Homo sapiens: one gene and its partners. The protein of the gene in region 3 interacts with the protein of the main gene of each other region in a pairwise test. Each region holds a gene or a part of one and is shown on either strand. Other genes may lie near its edges.

Evidence for each region.
Region 1: the proteins of SULT4A1 (region 3) and RUNX1 interact in a two-hybrid assay, tested with the Homo sapiens proteins (one large-scale study listed by BioGRID and IntAct).
Region 2: the proteins of SULT4A1 (region 3) and JPH3 interact in binary tests that used the Homo sapiens proteins (3 or more experiments, as listed by UniProt).
Region 4: the proteins of SULT4A1 (region 3) and APBB2 interact in binary tests that used the Homo sapiens proteins (3 or more experiments, as listed by UniProt).

Annotation. Positions count from the first base shown.
Region 1 is NC_000021.9:34,785,458-34,790,802, reverse strand, and holds the end of RUNX1 (runt-related transcription factor 1), read left to right. Parts: 3' UTR 1-3,002; downstream 3,003-5,345.
Region 2 is NC_000016.10:87,607,163-87,612,507, forward strand, and holds part of JPH3 (junctophilin-3), read left to right. Parts: intron 1-5,345. UniProt on the Homo sapiens protein: Junctophilins contribute to the formation of junctional membrane complexes (JMCs) which link the plasma membrane with the endoplasmic or sarcoplasmic reticulum in excitable cells.
Region 3 is NC_000022.11:43,855,135-43,860,479, forward strand, and holds part of SULT4A1 (sulfotransferase 4A1), read right to left. Parts: intron 1-5,345. UniProt on the Homo sapiens protein: Atypical sulfotransferase family member with very low affinity for 3'-phospho-5'-adenylyl sulfate (PAPS) and very low catalytic activity towards L-triiodothyronine, thyroxine, estrone, p-nitrophenol, 2-naphthylamine, and 2-beta-naphthol.
Region 4 is NC_000004.12:41,206,829-41,212,173, forward strand, and holds part of APBB2 (amyloid beta precursor protein binding family B member 2), read right to left. Parts: intron 1-5,345. UniProt on the Homo sapiens protein: Plays a role in the maintenance of lens transparency, and may also play a role in muscle cell strength. Involved in hippocampal neurite branching and neuromuscular junction formation, as a result plays a role in spatial memory functioning.

The DNA of each region.
Region 1 (5,345 bases), on a different chromosome or scaffold from region 3:
ATTTAAGGGCCCACCAGAAGCAGGCCTCGAGGAGTCAATTTGCCTCTGTGTGCCTCAGTGGAGACAAGTGGGAAAACATGGTCCCACCTGTGCGAGACCCCCTGTCCTGTGCTGCTCACTCAACAACATCTTTGTGTTGCTTTCACCAGGCTGAGACCCTACCCTATGGGGTATATGGGCTTTTACCTGTGCACCAGTGTGACAGGAAAGATTCATGTCACTACTGTCCGTGGCTACAATTCAAAGGTATCCAATGTCGCTGTAAATTTTATGGCACTATTTTTATTGGAGGATTTGGTCAGAATGCAGTTGTTGTACAACTCATAAATACTAACTGCTGATTTTGACACATGTGTGCTCCAAATGATCTGGTGGTTATTTAACGTACCTCTTAAAATTCGTTGAAACGATTTCAGGTCAACTCTGAAGAGTATTTGAAAGCAGGACTTCAGAACAGTGTTTGATTTTTATTTTATAAATTTAAGCATTCAAATTAGGCAAATCTTTGGCTGCAGGCAGCAAAAACAGCTGGACTTATTTAAAACAACTTGTTTTTGAGTTTTCTTATATATATATTGATTATTTGTTTTACACACATGCAGTAGCACTTTGGTAAGAGTTAAAGAGTAAAGCAGCTTATGTTGTCAGGTCGTTCTTATCTAGAGAAGAGCTATAGCAGATCTCGGACAAACTCAGAATATATTCACTTTCATTTTTGACAGGATTCCCTCCACAACTCAGTTTCATATATTATTCCGTATTACATTTTTGCAGCTAAATTACCATAAAATGTCAGCAAATGTAAAAATTTAATTTCTGAAAAGCACCATTAGCCCATTTCCCCCAAATTAAACGTAAATGTTTTTTTTCAGCACATGTTACCATGTCTGACCTGCAAAAATGCTGGAGAAAAATGAAGGAAAAAATTATGTTTTTCAGTTTAATTCTGTTAACTGAAGATATTCCAACTCAAAACCAGCCTCATGCTCTGATTAGATAATCTTTTACATTGAACCTTTACTCTCAAAGCCATGTGTGGAGGGGGCTTGTCACTATTGTAGGCTCACTGGATTGGTCATTTAGAGTTTCACAGACTCTTACCAGCATATATAGTATTTAATTGTTTCAAAAAAAATCAAACTGTAGTTGTTTTGGCGATAGGTCTCACGCAACACATTTTTGTATGTGTGTGTGTGTGCGTGTGTGTGTGTGTGTGTGAAAAATTGCATTCATTGACTTCAGGTAGATTAAGGTATCTTTTTATTCATTGCCCTCAGGAAAGTTAAGGTATCAATGAGACCCTTAAGCCAATCATGTAATAACTGCATGTGTCTGGTCCAGGAGAAGTATTGAATAAGCCATTTCTACTGCTTACTCATGTCCCTATTTATGATTTCAACATGGATACATATTTCAGTTCTTTCTTTTTCTCACTATCTGAAAATACATTTCCCTCCCTCTCTTCCCCCCAATATCTCCCTTTTTTTCTCTCTTCCTCTATCTTCCAAACCCCACTTTCTCCCTCCTCCTTTTCCTGTGTTCTCTTAAGCAGATAGCACATACCCCCACCCAGTACCAAATTTCAGAACACAAGAAGGTCCAGTTCTTCCCCCTTCACATAAAGGAACATGGTTTGTCAGCCTTTCTCCTGTTTATGGGTTTCTTCCAGCAGAACAGAGACATTGCCAACCATATTGGATCTGCTTGCTGTCCAAACCAGCAAACTTTCCTGGGCAAATCACAATCAGTGAGTAAATAGACAGCCTTTCTGCTGCCTTGGGTTTCTGTGCAGATAAACAGAAATGCTCTGATTAGAAAGGAAATGAATGGTTCCACTCAAATGTCCTGCAATTTAGGATTGCAGATTTCTGCCTTGAAATACCTGTTTCTTTGGGACATTCCGTCCTGATGATTTTTATTTTTGTTGGTTTTTATTTTTGGGGGGAATGACATGTTTGGGTCTTTTATACATGAAAATTTGTTTGACAATAATCTCACAAAACATATTTTACATCTGAACAAAATGCCTTTTTGTTTACCGTAGCGTATACATTTGTTTTGGGATTTTTGTGTGTTTGTTGGGAATTTTGTTTTTAGCCAGGTCAGTATTGATGAGGCTGATCATTTGGCTCTTTTTTTCCTTCCAGAAGAGTTGCATCAACAAAGTTAATTGTATTTATGTATGTAAATAGATTTTAAGCTTCATTATAAAATATTGTTAATGCCTATAACTTTTTTTCAATTTTTTTGTGTGTGTTTCTAAGGACTTTTTCTTAGGTTTGCTAAATACTGTAGGGAAAAAAATGCTTCTTTCTACTTTGTTTATTTTAGACTTTAAAATGAGCTACTTCTTATTCACTTTTGTAAACAGCTAATAGCATGGTTCCAATTTTTTTTAAGTTCACTTTTTTTGTTCTAGGGGAAATGAATGTGCAAAAAAAGAAAAAGAACTGTTGGTTATTTGTGTTATTCTGGATGTATAAAAATCAATGGAAAAAAATAAACTTTCAAATTGAAATGACGGTATAACACATCTACTGAAAAAGCAACGGGAAATGTGGTCCTATTTAAGCCAGCCCCCACCTAGGGTCTATTTGTGTGGCAGTTATTGGGTTTGGTCACAAAACATCCTGAAAATTCGTGCGTGGGCTTCTTTCTCCCTGGTACAAACGTATGGAATGCTTCTTAAAGGGGAACTGTCAAGCTGGTGTCTTCAGCCAGATGACATGAGAGAATATCCCAGAACCCTCTCTCCAAGGTGTTTCTAGATAGCACAGGAGAGCAGGCACTGCACTGTCCACAGTCCACGGTACACAGTCGGGTGGGCCGCCTCCCCTCTCCTGGGAGCATTCGTCGTGCCCAGCCTGAGCAGGGCAGCTGGACTGCTGCTGTTCAGGAGCCACCAGAGCCTTCCTCTCTTTGTACCACAGTTTCTTCTGTAAATCCAGTGTTACAATCAGTGTGAATGGCAAATAAACAGTTTGACAAGTACATACACCATATCCAATTGGTTTTGTCTTTCTCTGAGATGGAGGGTTGGGAAACTGAGTAAGGCCCACTGCACACACTAGGAAGATACCTCCAGTGAACAGCTTCAGGCTGAAGCTATGTCCTCACCCCCGGTGCTCCTAGCACACTCTGGCTTCTGAAGGCATGAGGGCCTGGAAAAGGCGCAGGCTCCCAGGGTTGCTTCTTTGCATATGAAAGAGCACTGAAGCATGTTTTAATGCTTGTTTTAAAAAATAATAATAGGCCGGCGCGGTGGCTCACGCCTGTAATCCCAGCACGTTGGGAGGCCGAGGCGGGCGGATCATGAGGTCAGGAGATCGCGACCATCCTGGCTAACACGGTGAAACTCTGTCTCTACTAAAAATATAAAAAATTAGCCTGGCGTGGTGGCGGCTGTAGTCCCAACTACTCAGGAGGCTGAGGCAGAAGAATGGCGTGAACCCGGGAGGCGGAAGTTGCAGTGAGCCGAGATCGCGCCACTGCACTCTAGCCTGGGCGACAGAGCGAGACTCCATCTCAAAAATAATAATAATAATAAAGAAACTAAAAAGAGTTACATGACACTAGCCAACCCAAAGTGGAAAGGGCTGTATGTTCAACCTAAGGCCAGGAAGCTTCATCTGCCTTCATTGCTGTACATTGCAGGAATCAGGCTTGGGTAGTGGTTGGGAGTTTTTTAAAAGAAATACTTCTCTCACCACCACCCCAGTGCAAAGTATCTTTAGTATTTTAGTTTCAAGACTCTGGGTTCAACTCAAGGTATCTTCCCACCAAGAATTACTGTCTAAAGTATCTTCCAGTTCTGTCACTGCTGTCTCATGGGACCTCATGACTGATGCTAGAAGAAAATCTTCAGCCGAATCAAGTTTAAAGGAGTTTAACTGAGCAATGAACAATTTGTGAATCGGGCAGCCCCCAGGAACACAGCAGATTCACGGAGACTCCAGGGGTGCCTCGTGGTCAGAACAAATTTATAGACCAAACAGGTAGAGTGATGTACAAGAATCGGAAGTGAGGTACAGATACAGTGAGATTGGTTACAGCTTGGCGTTTGCCTTATTTGAACGCAGTTTGAACATTCAGGAGTCTATGAGTGGTTGAATTATGACCACTGGGATTGGCCAACCCTTAGCTATTGTTACAGGTGCATACTATTAAGTTAGGTTTTTAATTTTGTCTGACCATTAAGCTAGGTTACAGTTCATCCACAGGACTCAAATATAGAAATATGGAGTCCTTCTCAGGCCATATTTAGTTTGCTTTAACATTGATCTTAAATGGTCTGCAGGAGGACCACAAAAAATGTCAGGAACCAAAGTGGGGTCAGCAAGAAAGGATGTGACCTAGAAGTCACCGCTCCTGAGCACAGGTAGGAAACAGGGGTAGGATCAGGCAGTACATGGACATGGCCATGCACAAAGAAGAAGAAAACAGAAGCTTGTCAGTGAGATGCTTGATTACCACGTCTCTAGCCAGTCGTTAAACTAAACTTTAGTGTCAGAGAGATTTTGTACCTTCTGAAGAGCTCAAGTTATTTCAGAGGAGAAACCTAGGCCTGAAGAAGAAAACAACAAACATTTGTGCCTTGATGTTGACCTTGATCGCCTGGCTGAAGTAGCGTTTGTTATATCTCTCTTCCAGAATGTTACCCTTTTATCTCCCCCGACTTTTCACTGTCCCCTTTGGAAGGAAGTCACGATGCACAGCCCCACTTAGGGAATGTGGAGCTATGCTCTCGTTTCCTTCAGGAGGCAGGAGTCCTTGGCTGAGGACACCAGGACACCCCCCACCCAGTGGCCTCATGCCTCATGGGAAACAGAGCCCAGGTGTCCTCCGTGTGAAGGCTCTCTCTGCTCCAGAGAGGACAGGTAGCTCCTCCCCCTGCTAAGGTGCACCAATGCCTACCCCCACCCCTCCAGCCTAGAGGATCCAAAAGTTCAGAATGTTCAGGGTTCTAGAAGCAGCTCCACATTGCCCACTTTGGGCTGTCTTTGTATAAGGCCAAGCTTTCCCACCCACACTCCACCCACCCTCCAATAATGTAGACAAAGTCCCCACCAGAGTTTCCCAATGTGGCTCAGGATTCTAAGAAGTCACCACCATTTCTTGGGGGTCGGGGGAAAGAACTGGCTGGGGTTTATCTTATAACCTCACAGAATTCCCCACATCTTTATTCAAAATGAGCCCACCCTGTGGTCATGACGATGCTTACCTGGGTTCCCAGAATCCTAAATCCCAGAATCTAAAGGGAACTCACAGATGAATAAATGCAATCCTCCCTCAGATGTATAAATACCTCTCCCCACCCCTTGGGGTTTCTCCACAGATAGTTTTGC
Region 2 (5,345 bases), on a different chromosome or scaffold from region 3:
AAACCCATACACTGCCCAGGACCCCTGGCCCCCTGAGGCCCACCATGCATGCCGGTGCTGCACCGCACAGGTATAGATCTTTCCTTCGGGTGCTGTGTACACAGAACCCCTCGAATCGAAAGTTACCCCCTCCAATAAGCCCTCCTACACCCTGAAAGATATGAGTCATCTCACGCCCAAGCCTCTCCCCCTCATACTCAGGTCCCGTTCACCGGCCCAGATTCCTCAACCCACACAAATCACACACACCCACAGTCGGAATTCAGATCCCCCCAGGCGCCTGCGCACACACACGCGCACAAAACACCTGCCACCCGGAGACATTTTCCACCCCGTCCCCCAGAACGCAGCCACTGCGCCCTTGCGGCCTTGCTTGCTCTCCACTGGCCAAGGACTCTGAATCTCCACCAGGCCTGTAAACGGGGAGCTCAGATGACAGAGGCAGTGGTGTGCTTCGTTTCCATTTTAAACACACGTTTATGCTGTTAGTGCCCTTTTAGGGAGAAAAATCCCTCATCTCAACAAAATAAACTACCATGGGGCGTATGCTTTGTGCTTGGCTATGACTATGACTATGCAACAAGTAATTTCTTTTTCAAATGAGTGCCCAGGTTAGAAGGAATCAGGTTCATTGGTGCGGAGATTATGCCAACAGAAACTCATTTCAGAAACAAGAAGCAAGCCCTGAGCAGTTGGAGACGAAAGCGTTTTCTCCGAGATTCTCTTTCCGCTACTTCGGGGGGCGGGTGGTGAAAGGCTCCGTAAGGTGAAAAGAGAAAGGAAGAAGCAAACAGCTATTTTTTTGTTGCCAGTTATAGCTGAGAAACAAATGTGGCTGAAGGGCACCCCTACCCACGTTGGCCGTGAGGCCGTTTGATGGGCTTTGTGTGAGGAATCCTGAGATGAGCTGGCCGGGGAGTGAGGACCGGCACCCGCCTACAGCAGCGATCTGGAGTAGTGAGTGAGCAGCCCCAGCTGACACAGAGAAGGAGAGAGAGAACTCTGACCCCTTCTCTTCTGAGGACACCCAGCCGGAGAGAGCAAGAAGGGGTGGAGTGTGGGGGTGGGGGCAGGAGCCTCTGCTGTTCCTTTCCAAGACTTTTTCTTCCTGTTTTCCCCAAGCCTCCACAACTCTAAATATGACGAGCTCTCAACTGTGAGCTAATAATGTTGAATGTAACGCCCTTTGTGTCCTTAGATGACAAAAAGACTTGTGAGTACTAGAGGAGAGGGTGATGTTGGTGTGAATTTTCCACATTGGTCCGTGTCTCCGTGGACTGGCCGCTTCCCCCGCTGGTAGCTTCATGGCTGTGAGAGGCCATGCGGTGGATGGAGCCACCGCTGCACTGGGGTCCTGGCTCGAACTTGAGTAAGGTGCTGTCTTCCAAGTCTGGAGAGGAGAGGAGGAGAGAAGAGAGGCAGTCCCTTCAGCACCTTGGAGAGCGCTCCCGGCTGCCTGCCTGGGTTGGGTGGACGGCTGGACTCACTTTCGCTCTAGGCATCCTCTTCAAGCCAAACCATCTCTCCTTGCCAGTGACCGCCTGGTCCCGGACCCTCCAGCACACTCAACCACCAGAAGTGTGCCTATGCCTGTGCCAGATGTGGGGGCCACGCCTGCGATCCCAACACTTTGGGAGGCCGAGATGGGAGGTTCACTTGAGCCCAGGAGTTTGAGACCAGCCTGGGCAACATTGTGAGACCCCCGTCTCTACAAAAAATACAAAAATTAGCCAGGTGTGGTGCTGCACGCCTGTGGTCCCACCACTCAGGAGGCTGAGGTGAGAGGATCGCTTGAGCCCCGGAGGTCAAGGCTGCAGTGAGCCAAGATGGTGCCACTGCACTCCAGCCTGCTGACAGAGCCAGACCCCATCTCAAAAGAAAAAGAAGAAGTGTGCCTGGTCCTACTCAGTCGGTGCATGGATTCCATGCTCCAGGAAGGGCTGCCACTTGGCATGCCTGCCTATGTTTTCACCCCTACCCTGTCAGTCCTTCCTGAAGAAGTGAGTGTCTTCTGAGGTAACATCCTCTGCTGGTCAACTGGGAGAGCAGCTCCCAGCTTGTGGAGGTGGGTTTGGGGGTGAGACTTTATTTTTTTGTTTTTATTTATTTATTTATCTGTTTTGAGATGGAGTCTCACCCTGTAGCCCAAGGTGGAGTGCAGTGGAGTGATCTTGGCTCATTGCAACCTCTGCCTCCTGGGCTCAAGTCATTCTCATGCCTCAGCCTCCCGAGTAGCTGGGATTACAGGCATACACCACCACACCTGGCTAATGTTTTGGGTTTTAGTAGAGACAGTGTTTTGCCATGTTGGCCAGGCTGGTCTTGAACTGAACTCAGGCGATCTGCGTGCCTCGGCCTCCCAAAGTGTTGGGATTACAGGTGTGAGCCACTGTGCCCGGCCTAGGGTGAGACTTTAGTAAGATGTATAGAAGTTGCTCTGAAGTCTAAGGTGTATTCCTGCCATAGGATATGTGTGTTCACTTCTCTTGGAGCATAACAGGGGTCATAGGTGCACAGCCGAAGGCAGGCAGAGGAATGATTTGTCTGTACCAGTCAGTGAAACTGTTTCACCACCATTCTCTTTACATCTGCCTCAATGGGTGAGTCCTCTAGACCAATGGTCCCCAACCTTTTTGGCACCAGGGACCTGTTTCATGGAAGACAATTTTTCTACCGCCCAGGGTTGAGGGATGGTTTTGGGATGATTCAGGCGCATTCTATTTATTGTGTGCTTTATTTCTATTATTATTACATTGTAATATATAGTGAAGTAATAATACAACTCACCATCATGTAGAATCAGTGGGAGCCCTGAGTTTGTTTTCCTACAACTAGACGGTCTCATCTGGGGGTGATGGGAGATAGTGACAGATCATCGGACATTAGATTATCATAAGGAGTGTGCAAACTAGGTCCCTGGCATGAGCAGTTTCCAGTAGGCTCTGCATTCCTATGAGAATCTAATGCTGCTGCTGATCTCACAGGAGGCAGAGCTCAGGCAGTAATGCAAGCGTTGGAGAGCGGCTGTAAATACAGACGAAGCTTCACTTGCTTGCTTACTCACTCGCCACTCACCTCCTGCTGTGTGGCTGGGTTCCTAACAGGCAACGAACCAGTACCAGCCACATTTCACGGGCTCAACAGCCACCTGGGACTAGTCGCCACCATATTGGACAATGTAAATCCAGAACATTCCATCAGTGCAGAAAGCTTTATTGGGCAGGCAGCACTGGTCTGGAGTGTAAGTTCCATATGGGAAGCGGTTTGTGTCCATGCTGGTCACTGCCATGTGCCCAGTGACTAAAATGGTGCTGGCACGTGGTGGTCAATAAATATTTGTGGAATGAATGACCTGTGCAAGTAAATGCGGTAGTATTTGGTAATTTTGTTTACCGTCATTATTTCGTATGCCTGTTTCATTGCAAGACCTTAGAATTGGACGTAGTTAAAGGAAAGTTTTTCCGTGAGACCCTCATGTCCACAGGTCAGTCTCCCTTTACAATTAGCATTAAAACATGCCTGTTCTAATTCCTTGATCAGTTTTGTTTTGTGGTTGGCTTTGTCATTGCTCCTTAAGAGACTGCCAGTGTTTCATATGAGAAAGATGATGGTGTTGAATGCAGTGAATAATGGAGCGATACCAGCAGTCATGACTGGGAGGCATTTTTGGACCACGATTTAATGAGTAGCATTCATTGCAAAGTGCAAAGAAAGGCCCATGGAAAGATGAGTACCCTCCAGTCTGCTTAATTCCTCACTATCTTTTTACTGCTCCCTTTTCCTTGGCTTGATTCGTTCAGTCATTGGAGAAGCATTTGCCAAGTTCAGACCGTGTTCAAGGCACAAAGACAGAAAAGCTCAGGTCCAACCTCAGTGAATCAGCCTTAAGTATTTGCTGAGCATTGAGTATGTACGCAGTACAGAGTTTGTGGTAACGTGGAAGATTGGAAAAAAAGAAACAAACACATAAAAATGAAAATGCAAGAAATAGGATGTCCTATGTTCTACCAGGAAGAATAAGGAGTCTGAACAGGGATGCAAAACCGAGATATATGGAATAATTCAGGGTTTCTCATGCCACAGTGGGGGTCCTGAATGGGAGCACCACAGGGCAGGGACCTGAGGAGGGGCAGGGCAGGTGTGTGTGTCCCTGAAGGAGCGGCAGAGGCTTCTGGGGGTAGGCAGTGCCTGAGTTGAGTCTGGAAGGGCAGTAGGGTGAGAGTTGTTATCCCAAGCCTGAGGCTGCAGATTTGTTCGAGGCCATGTCTCCCTCAGCCTCAGCTTCCCCATCTCTATGATTTAGTCATGACATTTTTTTCCTTCTCAACATGTGCCATCTCCCTCCTACCTATGAATGTCACGGGTATTGTTCTGGACCCAGGGAAGGCTCGCTGGTGCAAATGCTTTCCAAAAACACCGAGAGTCGCTCTCTCTGCTGCTGGTGGAGTCTGAGTTGGGCAGGACATGGGCCCGCCTCTGTCTGCTGCTCTATGCCAGTGCTTCCCAAGCCTGAGTGTTACAAGAACCACCTGGAAGGTGTGTCAAGACACAGATTTCCAGCCCCACCCCTGAGTCTCTGGGCCTGGGATGCCACCCAAGAATTTATATTTCTTACAAATTTCAGGCGATGCTGAGGCTGCTGATCTGGGGACCTCACATTAAGAACCACAGTCCTGGGCTTGTGCCTCCTAAGCCTGGCTACACATTCGAGTCACTAAGAATGTCCCTGGGAGACGGTTAGAAATGCAGCGTGTCAGGCCTGCCTGACCTCCAGGGTCAGGATGTGTGTTTGGAGATGCTCAGGTGGCTGCAGTGCAGGAGATCCTGCTTTGGTGCACTCACTTTAACCCTAGCTGTGCATGAGCTTCATCTAGGTTGCTTTAGAAAATGCAGATGCCCGGGCCCCACCCACAGGTGCTGATTGAGGTCCTCTGGGTACAGCCTGGGCATTGGGATTCTTTTTATTTTAATTTTTTTCAGACGGGGGCTGGCTCCGTCTGTCGTCCTGGCGTGCAATAGTGTGTGATCGTGGCTCACTGCAACCTCTGCCTCCTGGCCTCAAGCCATCTTCCCACCTCAGCCTCCTGAGTAGCTGGGACTGCAGGCATGCACCCCCATGCCCAGCTAAGTTTTGTTATTTGTTGTAGAGATGGGGTTTTGTCGTGTTTCCCAGACTGGTCTCAAACTCCTGAGCTCAAGCGATCCGCCCACCTTGGCCTCCTGAAGTGCTTTTACAGGTGTGAGCAACTTTTTTACAGGATTACAGGTGTGAGCAACTGCACCTGGCCTGAGATTATTTTTTAAACATTCCAGGTGATTCTAACGTTCAGCGCAGGTTGAGGACC
Region 3 (5,345 bases):
TGACCCCACTCATGACCCCGGGGCTGGCACCACCCAAAGCCAGGCCCATTGGAAGGAGGTGGCAGCGCAGGGAGATGCCACCTGCAGAGTTGGGCTGGCCTAGGCCAGTTTCTTCTCAGGGTCTTGGTTCCTTACCCAAAAAATGGCCTATTTCATGGCAAAGTTGTGAGGATGGGGAGGATAAAACAAAGTACTTGGCACAAAGACAGGAAACCCGCTTTCCTCCCTGGTTGTTCTGAGGCTTGAGCAGGACAAATGCCAACCACCTAGTCCAATGCCCCTGCCGCTGGTGGGGTCAACAGGTCCCAGGAGAGTCTGGCTCATTTCAAGCTGAGCCAAGTCCTGAAGCCCAAGCCAGGGCCTCTGGCTCACCAGCCCCCACAAAATGACTGGTTTAGCTTCCAGAAAATGCCAGCAAGTCTCCAAAGCATGCTTTAGGGAGGCTTCCACCTCTCAATGGGCCCTCCACTCTCCTCTCGCTCCCTCCAGAAGCCCACGCTAGGAGCCCGCTCCCTGCTAACCATAACACAGTCACACTGTGCAACATCCTGTCCCACATCCCAGGAGCTACAGACATGCCCACCACCTGATCTAGTGGTCGGAGATCAGGAGGGACCACTAGGGCCACTTCCCCCTAGATGCAGGACACTGGAAAGAGCTGCCCCCACACTAACAGGGAGAGGTCAGATAAAATACAAGATCCTAGTTTCACTCAACCAAGATGGGCCCTTCCACAGAGTGGCAGGAGGCAAGCACCAGCTCACTTGAGACAGGGCCCTGGAGGAAGAGAAGCCAGCCCATGCAGGTGGCGAGAGGAATTCAGGTAAAATGTTTCCATGCTGGTAAAAGCCAAGGGTGAGCCCATGTGACAGCACAGAACCTCTGAAGCCAGAGAAGCCAGAGAATCTCACACTGAGCAGAGTTCACACCCAAACACAGGCTCTTCTCCAGACCTAGGCCAGGTGCTCAGGAGAAAGAGTTGGGGGCAGCATGCTTTGGAGAGAGCCTTCCTCAGTATCATGGCTGTAGGAAAAGAAAAACATCCTACTTGTACCCTTCTCCCTTACAGAAAAAAGGCTTTAAGTCACTGAGAGAGGGGCAGCAAACCGTGTCACCTCCCAGGGCACTGGTGAAGACCCAATGTGGCTGGAGATGGGCAAAAGGAAAAACCAAGACTCTGCCCTTGGGGGAGGGGCAGGAAACTGTCCCTGGGCCCTGACTACTAGAGATTCTCAGTGCTACAGAAGGGACATGAAACTCCTGCACAAGAGTTACCATCCAGGCAGTTTGGCTGCCACTCAGAGGAGGGCAGGATCAATGAAAAAGCCCTACCCAGACCCAGCAACATGGAGCCTGCAGAAGACTGCAGCTAGACAACACAACAGAGAACCCCAAACCCTCCCTACCAAGCTACTAAACCAAAGTAACAGATAACAGCAGAGTCGATCACTGGCACAGGGGCAAGAGTGTGCAGACAAAACTCCTCCAAGGTTCAGACCTACGAGGAAGACCAAAAGGTGGAGGTGGAGCAGGAACACTGAGAAAAAACCTCTGGAAACTCAGCCCCTCCACTGAACGCAAGCTAACACTACAATAATATGAAACCAGTGGTCACTCAAGGTAATCAGATCAACACCCGAACCCAAACCAGACCAACGAGGCGGGGTTAACTCAATTCCTTATACTAATGGCCTAGCAGTTGAAAAGCCGGCCTCATTTGCAAGCATAAATATGGCTGACCTTAGTCTCTACTATCTAATATGCTGTGTTGAGCAGTCAAAAGGTACTATTCACAAAAAAGGCACACGCGCACACACACAAACAAAACTGTCAAGAGACAAAGCAATCAACAGAATTAGACTCATGGAATTTTTAAGAAGTCTGATTAACATGTTAAAGGTTCCCAAGGAAAAGATGGACAACACACATGAATAGATGGGATTATTTCAGCAGAGAAATGGAAACTCTAAGTGGAAATGCTAGAGGGAAAAAAACATAACAGAAACATTGAATGCTTCTGACAGCTCATCAGCAGACTTGACACAGCAGAAGAAAGGAGCAGTTAGCCACAGATCGGTCCACAGAGATTACCCAAACTGGAACAAAAAGAGAAAAAGAAAGAAGCCAGGTGCAGCAGTATGCCTGCAGACCCAGCTACTCAGGAGGCTGAGGAAAGAGGACTGCTTAAGCCCAGGAATTCTAGGCCAGTCTGAGCAGCACAGTGAGATCCTGTCTCAAAAAAAAAAAAAAAAAAAAAGGAAAGAAAAAAGAGGGAAGAAAACAGAAAACAGAATACAACATCCAAGAGCTGGAGGACAACATCAAACAATCTAACATATATGTAATTGGAATCTCAAAGGAAGAAAGAATGAGGTAAAAGAAACATTTTCTAAGATAATGGCTGAGAATTTTTCCAAAATAATGAAAAGCATCAAACCACAGATCCAAGAGGCTTAGAGGAATCCCAAGTAGAATAATTAACACACACATACAAAAACCCTAGACATACCATATTCAAAGTGCTGAAAATCAAAGACAAAGAGAAAACATTGAAGGCAGCCAGAGGAAAACAGGCACATTACCCAGTGGAAAAAAGAACAAGCCAACATTTCAGCAGAAGCTAAACAAGCCAAGGCCTGGCATAGCAGCTCACGCCTGTAATCTCAGCACTTTGGGAGGCCGAGGTAAGAGGATCATTTGAGCCCATGAGTCCAAGACCAGCCTAGGCAACATGGTGAGACCCTATCTCTACAAAAATACAAAAAATTAGCCAGGTGTGGTGGCGCACACCTGCAGTCCTAGCTACTTGGGAGGCTGAGGCAGGAGGATTGCTTGAGCCCAGGAGGTGGAGGCTGCAGTGAGCCATGATTGCATCACTGCACTCCAGCCTGGGCAATAGAGTAAGATCCTGTCTCAAAAAAAAAAAAAAAAAAGGAAAGAAAGAAAAAAAAAGAAAGAAAGAAAAGAAACTATGGCCAAGCACTGTGACTCACACCTGTAATCCCAGTACTTTGGGAGGCCAAGGCAAAAGAAACTATGGCCAGCCATGGTGGCTCACACCCATAATCCCAGGACTTTGGGAGGCCAAGGCAGGAGGATTATTTAAGCCCAGGAGTTCAAACCAACTACAAGTTCAACCAGGGCCAACTACTCAGGAGGCTGTGCTCCCAGCAGCCCCATCTCCTTCTTCCTCCAGAAGTCATTCTGCAGGCTTTTGCCTCCCAGCCCGGTTGAGTGATGGGGAGAAACGTGACCCCCGCAGACCCAGGACACTTGCTTTGGCAGCCCCTTCCCCAGGTCAAGCCTCCTGAGTATGTGTAACAGCCGGAAGACAAAGGGGAAGGGATGAGGGAGCAAGAGGAGAAAGATGGGGAAAGAGGAACTTCTCAGTTCTTCTGGTACAAAACCACACGTTCCATTCTTCAGGCCTCTGCATTCCCTCATAGGACGCAGGTAACTCACCACACTGCTGTGGAACACTTTGTTACCCTGTGTGGTAAAGCTCAAAGGGCTCCGCATGCTCCCTCATCTCAGAACAAACTGGTAACCCAGGAAGCGCTGGCAGGTGCTAGCTCCCACCCCCACGCCTCTCTTACCCCCTCCTGTGGGTGGTTTCTCTCCAGGATCTACACTCGGTGCTGCCACTACCCCAGCCCTTTGTCCTCCCTAGGCCCTCATTTTCACATCTATAAAAAGGAAATAATCACAAGAGCACAGGGCCGTCCTGAGAATCAAAGTGGGTGGAGGGCAAAACAGCATCTGTAATGGGTAATCCACCCAACCTGTCTCCTCCTCCATGCAGTCTCCCGAGATCCTCCTCTTCAGAACCCTCATTACCAGGCCATTTACCTGACCCTGAGAACAGCCACCCTGGCTTGTCAGTTAACTTTTCAGTGTTAGGATTCTGGCTTCCCCCATGTCACTGCAAGTGCCACAAGGTCACCATCACCTCATGCCCAGCCCTTCTGAAACCTGTCTCTCCCAGGCACAGTGACATACACACCAAGAAAACTAGGACATCCATCTAGCCTGGGACCTGCACACCATGAGTCTCCCCTCAGCTTCAGCTCCCCTCAGCTTCAACCCCTGAGTTGTCTGAAAATGTAAGACTTAAATGAATCAATCTGGTCAAATCCTCTCATTTTTAATGAGCAAACTGAGGTTCAAAGAAACCAGGTGGCTCACCCACGCCCAGGCCCAGAAGCTTCCGTCTGCATCAGTGAGAATGCGCACACACTTCAGGACTGGCCGGAACCAGGGGCAAAATAAACTCAGGGCAGTGGGTGCTCTGGCTGAGCCAGGGACCGTATTTCAAAGCCCAAGCTCCATGACTTTGGGGCTGTGCCCCCTCGGGGACGAGCACCCAATTCAAATCAACCTGTTGACAAAACCAGTGGCAGTGATTGCATCAAACCAACACACAGGGACAAAATATTTTCACAGACACAATCGGATTTAATACAACCACCGTCCCAGGACCAACTACGCTGTAAGAATGAATAGGAACAAAGTCGGTCATCAACAGAAAGGTCCTTCTCAGAAGACACAATGGGCTCCTACTGTCTGGATCACGGTTTTACCTGGCGCTGTGCAGCAGAACTTTCAGCTGTGATGGGAACACTCCATATCTGCGCCACCCAATACGGCAGCCGCTAGCCCCATGTGGCTACTGAGCACCTGAAACATGGTGATGCTACTGAGGAACAGAATTTCCACTTTTATTTCATTTTAATTCATTAGATGTAAGCAGCCGCCTGTGGGCAGAGGGTCCTACGCTGGAGAGCACAGTCCTAACCCGCCATCTAAGCTAGAATGTCGCAAGCACAAAAAGAATCCGAGCAAGCAGCACGGGGTTGTGGGAAAAAATACCGGACAGGAAGCGAAGGCAGGATCTAATTATCATTGCCTTAGCCACCAGAAAGCCCCCACCACCCCTTTGAACCCCAGTTTCTCCATCAGCAGAGGGTGGGAAGGGGCTGACAAGGGACCAGGCCCTTCCGGCTCTGACCACCTGCAAGTTCATTAGGATCTCCTACACCTGGGCACTGGAAATCCAAGGAGGCCCGTGGGTTCCCTGCCATGGCAGGTGAATGGGGCACCTGTTAGTCCTGGCTACTTGCCCCAACCCCAGCACCAACCATGTCTCCCCCATCAGACTGAGAGCTCACTAAGGACAGGCACCAGATGGGGCCCTCTCGGCTTCCCCAGCCCCTAGCAAAGCATCTGGGCACAACAGGTGTTCAGGGCTTAAAAGTCAGCATTAACCACGAGCCTTTCCAGCGTGTGTCTGGACGTGGGCTAAGCGTTCTCACCCGCCATTTTGCTCATCCTCACAGCCACACATC
Region 4 (5,345 bases), on a different chromosome or scaffold from region 3:
CTCTTGCCCAGGACAGAAGTCTACCTGAGAAACAGAAGGAAGATCAGAAGGTAAGAACAGAGCCAGCACCAAAGAGCAAGCAGGATGCTGCCAGGGAGAGGACCCATACCTGTAATCCCAGCACTTTGAGAGGCTGAGGCGGGCAGATCACTTGAGGTCAGGAGTTCGAGACCTGCTTGGCCAAAGTGGTGAAACCCCAGCCTCTACTAAAAATACAAAAATTAGCCGGATACAGTGGCGGGCACCTGTAGTTCCAACTACTTGGGTAGCTGAGGCAGGAAAACTGCTTGAACCTGGAAGGTGGAGGTTGCAGTGAGCCGAGATTAAGCCACTGCATTCCAGCCTGGGCGACCAAGTGAGACTCCGTCTCAAAAAAAAAAAAAAAAAAAAAAAAAAAGGAAATAATTTGTTGTTATTGTTTTGACACTCCTTCTTCACCCCACAATAGCAACCAAAACTAAAGGTGAATAACAGCAATTCCATGAGCAAATCATTCTGAAGCTTCCTCCAGCAATTCAAGGCTCACCCTGGAGGGAATGATACTGCAGAGGTCTGGGCCAAGCTGGCTATTACACAATTCTAGGTTCTATGGCTTTCACCCATCACCATTTCCTAGAATCACTAACTAAGAATTGCTAAAGAGTGTTGTTTTGCCAGAAAGAGGCCTGCATGCAAAGAATCAAATGTCAAGATACATCTTGAGGTTCACCTGCTGAAATTCACACTTCAACCACTTGCCCATTCTGTTCCCTTACACCCTCATCTTTCATCTTGGTGCTTTCCTTGTCATTCTCAAGCTATAATTCAAAAATAGTCACTGGCTCCTAGGGCACTTTCAAAATTAGCTCATTCACAGTTCCTAGGACCTTGGGTGACTCTATATTCCTGGAAAGCCCAGGGGCCCCATCAGCTGACCCACAAACTCCACATGTTGGCCTGGCCTCCATGACTCAACTCAATCCCAAGGGCAGGCCTCCCTGCATCTCAGGCCCAGATTCCCAGACTTACCAATTTCATGGACCATTCAGCGGCTAGATAAAAATATTCCTATCAAATCATAAAAGAATCTTACCCAAAAATGAGAAAGGCATAGTATCAGAGAAAAGGACATATCTTCTTATTTGAACAATTATGACATATTCACTACATCATTATCATCATTGTGATAAGAACAGTGAAAACCACTAACCAACAATAAATGACCTGTGGGGCTAACATTATGCTCTGCATATAGGAGATACTCATTTACTTTTATATTGTGTGGAAACTGAGCTCTGACTTACACGACAGGGACACATCCCATACCTCCAGTAATGCCAGGCCTTCCTTCTTCAACAATGGCATTTCCCTTTACCCTCTGGAATTCCGCAAAGTCTCTCCAATCTATCTCACCCTCTTAAACACACGTTTTTCCTTCTACCTCGATTCCAATATTCTGCATTCTTTTTTTTGAGACAGAGTCTCGCCCTTTCACCCAGGCTGGAGTGCAGTGGCGCGGTCTCAGCTCACAGCAACCTCCACCTCCTGGGTTCAAGCGATTCTCCTGCCTCAGCCTCCTGAGTAGCTGAAATTACAGGCGTGTGCCACCATGCCCGGCTAATTTTTGTATTTTTAGCAGAGACGGGGTTTCACCATGTTGGCCAGGCTGGTCTCAAACTCCCGACCTCAAGTGAGCCACCTGCCTTGGCCTCCGAAAGTGCTAGGATTACAGGCATGAGCCACTGCTCCCGGTTTCTGCATTCTTTTTCATCAACTTAAAAAAAACGACACTCTTCCTCCCACTCTAAGCATTCCTGAAGCATACTTGCCAATGAGTTACACTTCGGGAACTTCAGTTATTACCTAGCAAACAAAGTTTGCAAGATTTCCACAAGAGGAAAAGAGAGGGTAGAACTGGTAAACTTTGTTTATAACCACTGTCAAGTCATTAACCAACAACAAAGAAAAGCTTTAATCCATCCTTTTCTATACCATTCATTTCTTTCCATGTTCTCTTCTCGTATTTGTCCATGTGAATCTGTACATTTTATATATCAATAAATTATATATTGGGATTTTTCTCTGATTATAAAATAAATATACGTCCATTACAGAAAACAAGATAAGATTCAAACACCATGGAAATAAATTATATAGAAAGGGAATATCTCCTGTAACTCTACACACAAAGAGCTCTAATACCTTTAAACTGATCAAGCTTCTTACTTCCTGCCCAGTTGTGTGACTTGACCTTCCACCCTCTATGCCCTTCCTCTCTCCCAGCTCTCATCTAATGTCTGGAGTTAATGACCCACTCCTAACAGGGGTCCAGGAACCCTGGAGCCTGGTTATTAGAGGAACTAGAGTCACTCTCCCTTTATTAAAAATTATTTCAATGGGATAACAACTCCTCACTGACTCACTTAAAGGTTAATGAGGCTGAGTTTTGTGAGCCTCTTGAAAGCAAAATGCACTAAAAACACCAAATGGGATTGGTTTCCTTTGCTCTCTGCCCCATCGCAGCTTGCCAAGAAAAAAGAAAAAAAAGCTCATGATCCTGCTAATGACACTGAGTAGACACATTTCACCAGCCACCACTCCTGCTACTGCAGCAGCCAATCACAGGCATCTGTCCAACACAGTGACAGGGCTAACGTCAAATGAGAGTGAAAGTCGTATTCCAGAGACCAAGGGCTGCATTTCTCATCGAGGCGAGGAGACAAAGGCTGGGACACAGGAAAGGCTTGCCAAAATTTCACAAGGGTGGGCCTGGGAAGCAAAGCACAGGACCCCCTCCCCTGCAGCCTAGGTAGAGGTTTCTTTCTCAGACTATCTGTGTGCTCAAGAGCAGAAAGTCTCCCCGCAGAAAATGCTATGAAGTAGTTTCAAATGTCGAATACACTTTACCCAAATCTAATCATTACCTTATCTGCTAACTAGACTGGCAGGGCCATAAAGTTAATTTTATGACAACCATTTTATAACAAATGAAAACTATAAGGGAAGTAGGAATTGGGCAAAAAAAGAAGGGCATTGGACAAAGCAGTGACAAACCAGACAGGGAAACACAAAATCACCTCCAAATAATGCTCTAAACCAGTGGTCTCCAGACAGCGTTCATGGAAGACAATTTTTCCACGGATGGGGTTGGGGATTGGGATGAAACTGTTCCAACTCAGATCAACAAGCAGTAGATTCTCATAGGGAGTGCACAACCAAGATCCCACACATGTGCAGTTCACAACAGGGTTCACAGTCCTGTGAGAATCAAATGCCACCACTGATCTGACAGAGGTGGAGCTCAGGTGGTAAAGGTCACTTGCCCGCCGCTCACCTCCTGCTCTATGGCCCGGTTCCTAATAGGCCACTGACCAGTTCAGGTCCGAAGCAGGGGGCTGGGGACCCCTGCTCTTAAACGAAGACCTCTCTCCTCGAATGGCTGCATCACAGATCTCTAGACTGGGACAAGAAGGACCCGATAGACAACCAGAGGGTGACTGCAGCTCTCTCATTTTACAGATGGGAAAACAGGCCCAGAGACATAACTGACTTTTTCCAGGTAACACAGTGAATTGAAGTAAGGGACAAGCCAGCCCCAAAGGCAAGTCTTTGGGGTCCCTGGTTAGTAGTCTTTCCTCCAAATCCCCCCAGACCCTTTATTATGGAGAGTCTGTTACTCTGCCTCTGACAAACCATTTCGGCTGAGAGAAATGCCGTCAACACATATCAGCATGCAGAATATGCACTAATAACACATTAAAATCAAAATGGCTAATCTGGGTTTATCTTCTGACATCTAATTTCATTTGTTGGTAGTGCAACATTATTGAAAATAAATGAACACAAAACAGTTTTAAAATCTGGATAGAACCTTCTTGAAAACATTCAAATCATTCTGAAGATATGCAGTTCCAATCAAATTTAATTCTAAATAACAAATCAAAGATGCTTTAAAAGAGAATGCTTACTGAATAATAATGGAATCAATTAAAGATATTTTCATATAAGATAAAAGTTTAAAGCTCTATTGCTGTGAAATCACGAGCATCTACCTTTTCAGAGGGGTTTTCTTAGACAGCTGACATTTATGCATAGATGCTTACAGCATAAGATGATATATACAAAACCTTAATAGGATAATAGGACACATAAAAAGCACTGAACAGACCAGGCGTGATGGCTCACGCCTGTAATCCCAGCACTTTGGGAGACCGAGACTGGTGGACCTCCTGAGGTCAGGACTTGGAGACCAGCCTGGCCAACATGGTGAAACCCCATTTCTACTAAAATTACAAAAATTAGCCAGGCGTGGTGGCGGGCACCTGGAATCCCAGCTACTCAGGAGGCTGAGGCAGGAGAATTACTTGAACCTGGGAGGTGGAGGTTACAGTGAGCCAAGATCGCGCCACTACACTCCAGCCTGGGTGACAGACTGAAACTCTGTCTCAAAAATAATAATAATAATAATAATACTAGGCACTGAACAAATGCTGGTTTCCTAACCCCATGTAGGAAAATAAGTATTCCCCCCATAACCAGTAATAACTTATTACAATATTTTCCTAAAAGTCTGTCCCACCTGCTCCCCTCCCCCGCCCCCGGAAAACTTAAGGTGTTATATCACAAGGGTATTGTCCAGTTTTGTTTTGTTATTTATTTACTTATTTATTTATTTTATTTATGTATTTATTTTGAGACGGAGTCTCACCCTTTTGCCCAGGCTGGAGTGCAGTGGCGCGATCTTGGCTCACTGTAACCTCCACCTCCCAGGTTCAAGTGATTCTCCTGCCTCAGCTTTCCCAGTAGCTGGGATTACAGGCGGGAGCCACCACACCCGGCTAATTTTTGTATTTTTTTAGAGACGGGGGTTTTACCTCTTGGCCAGGCTGGTCTCAAACTCCTGACCTCAAGTGATCTGCCCGCCTCAGCTTCCCAAAGTGCTGTGATTATAGGTGTTAGCCACCGTACCCGGCCAGGTATTGTCTATTTTTAAAATGAAATTGAAAAAGGTACAGAGACACGACATACCATTTTTCTTATTTTTTCCTTCAACTTTTAAGTTCCAGGTACGTGTGCAGGATGTGCAGATTTGTTACACAGGTAAACATGTGCTATGGTGGTTTGATGCACAGATCAACCCATCACCTAGGTATTAAGCCCAGTATCTATTAGCTATTCTTCCTGATGCTCTCCCTTCCATTTTTCTTAAAAGATAAATTTAGATATCCAGTACTCAGGATAGTCCACACACATCATTATTCTAATATTATGACAAGGCTTTCAGTATTCATTCCTGTGGTAACAGAAAAATAAAAGAATTCAATGTTCATATGCTGTTTTTCTGGTGGCAGGAAAAGAAAACAGTC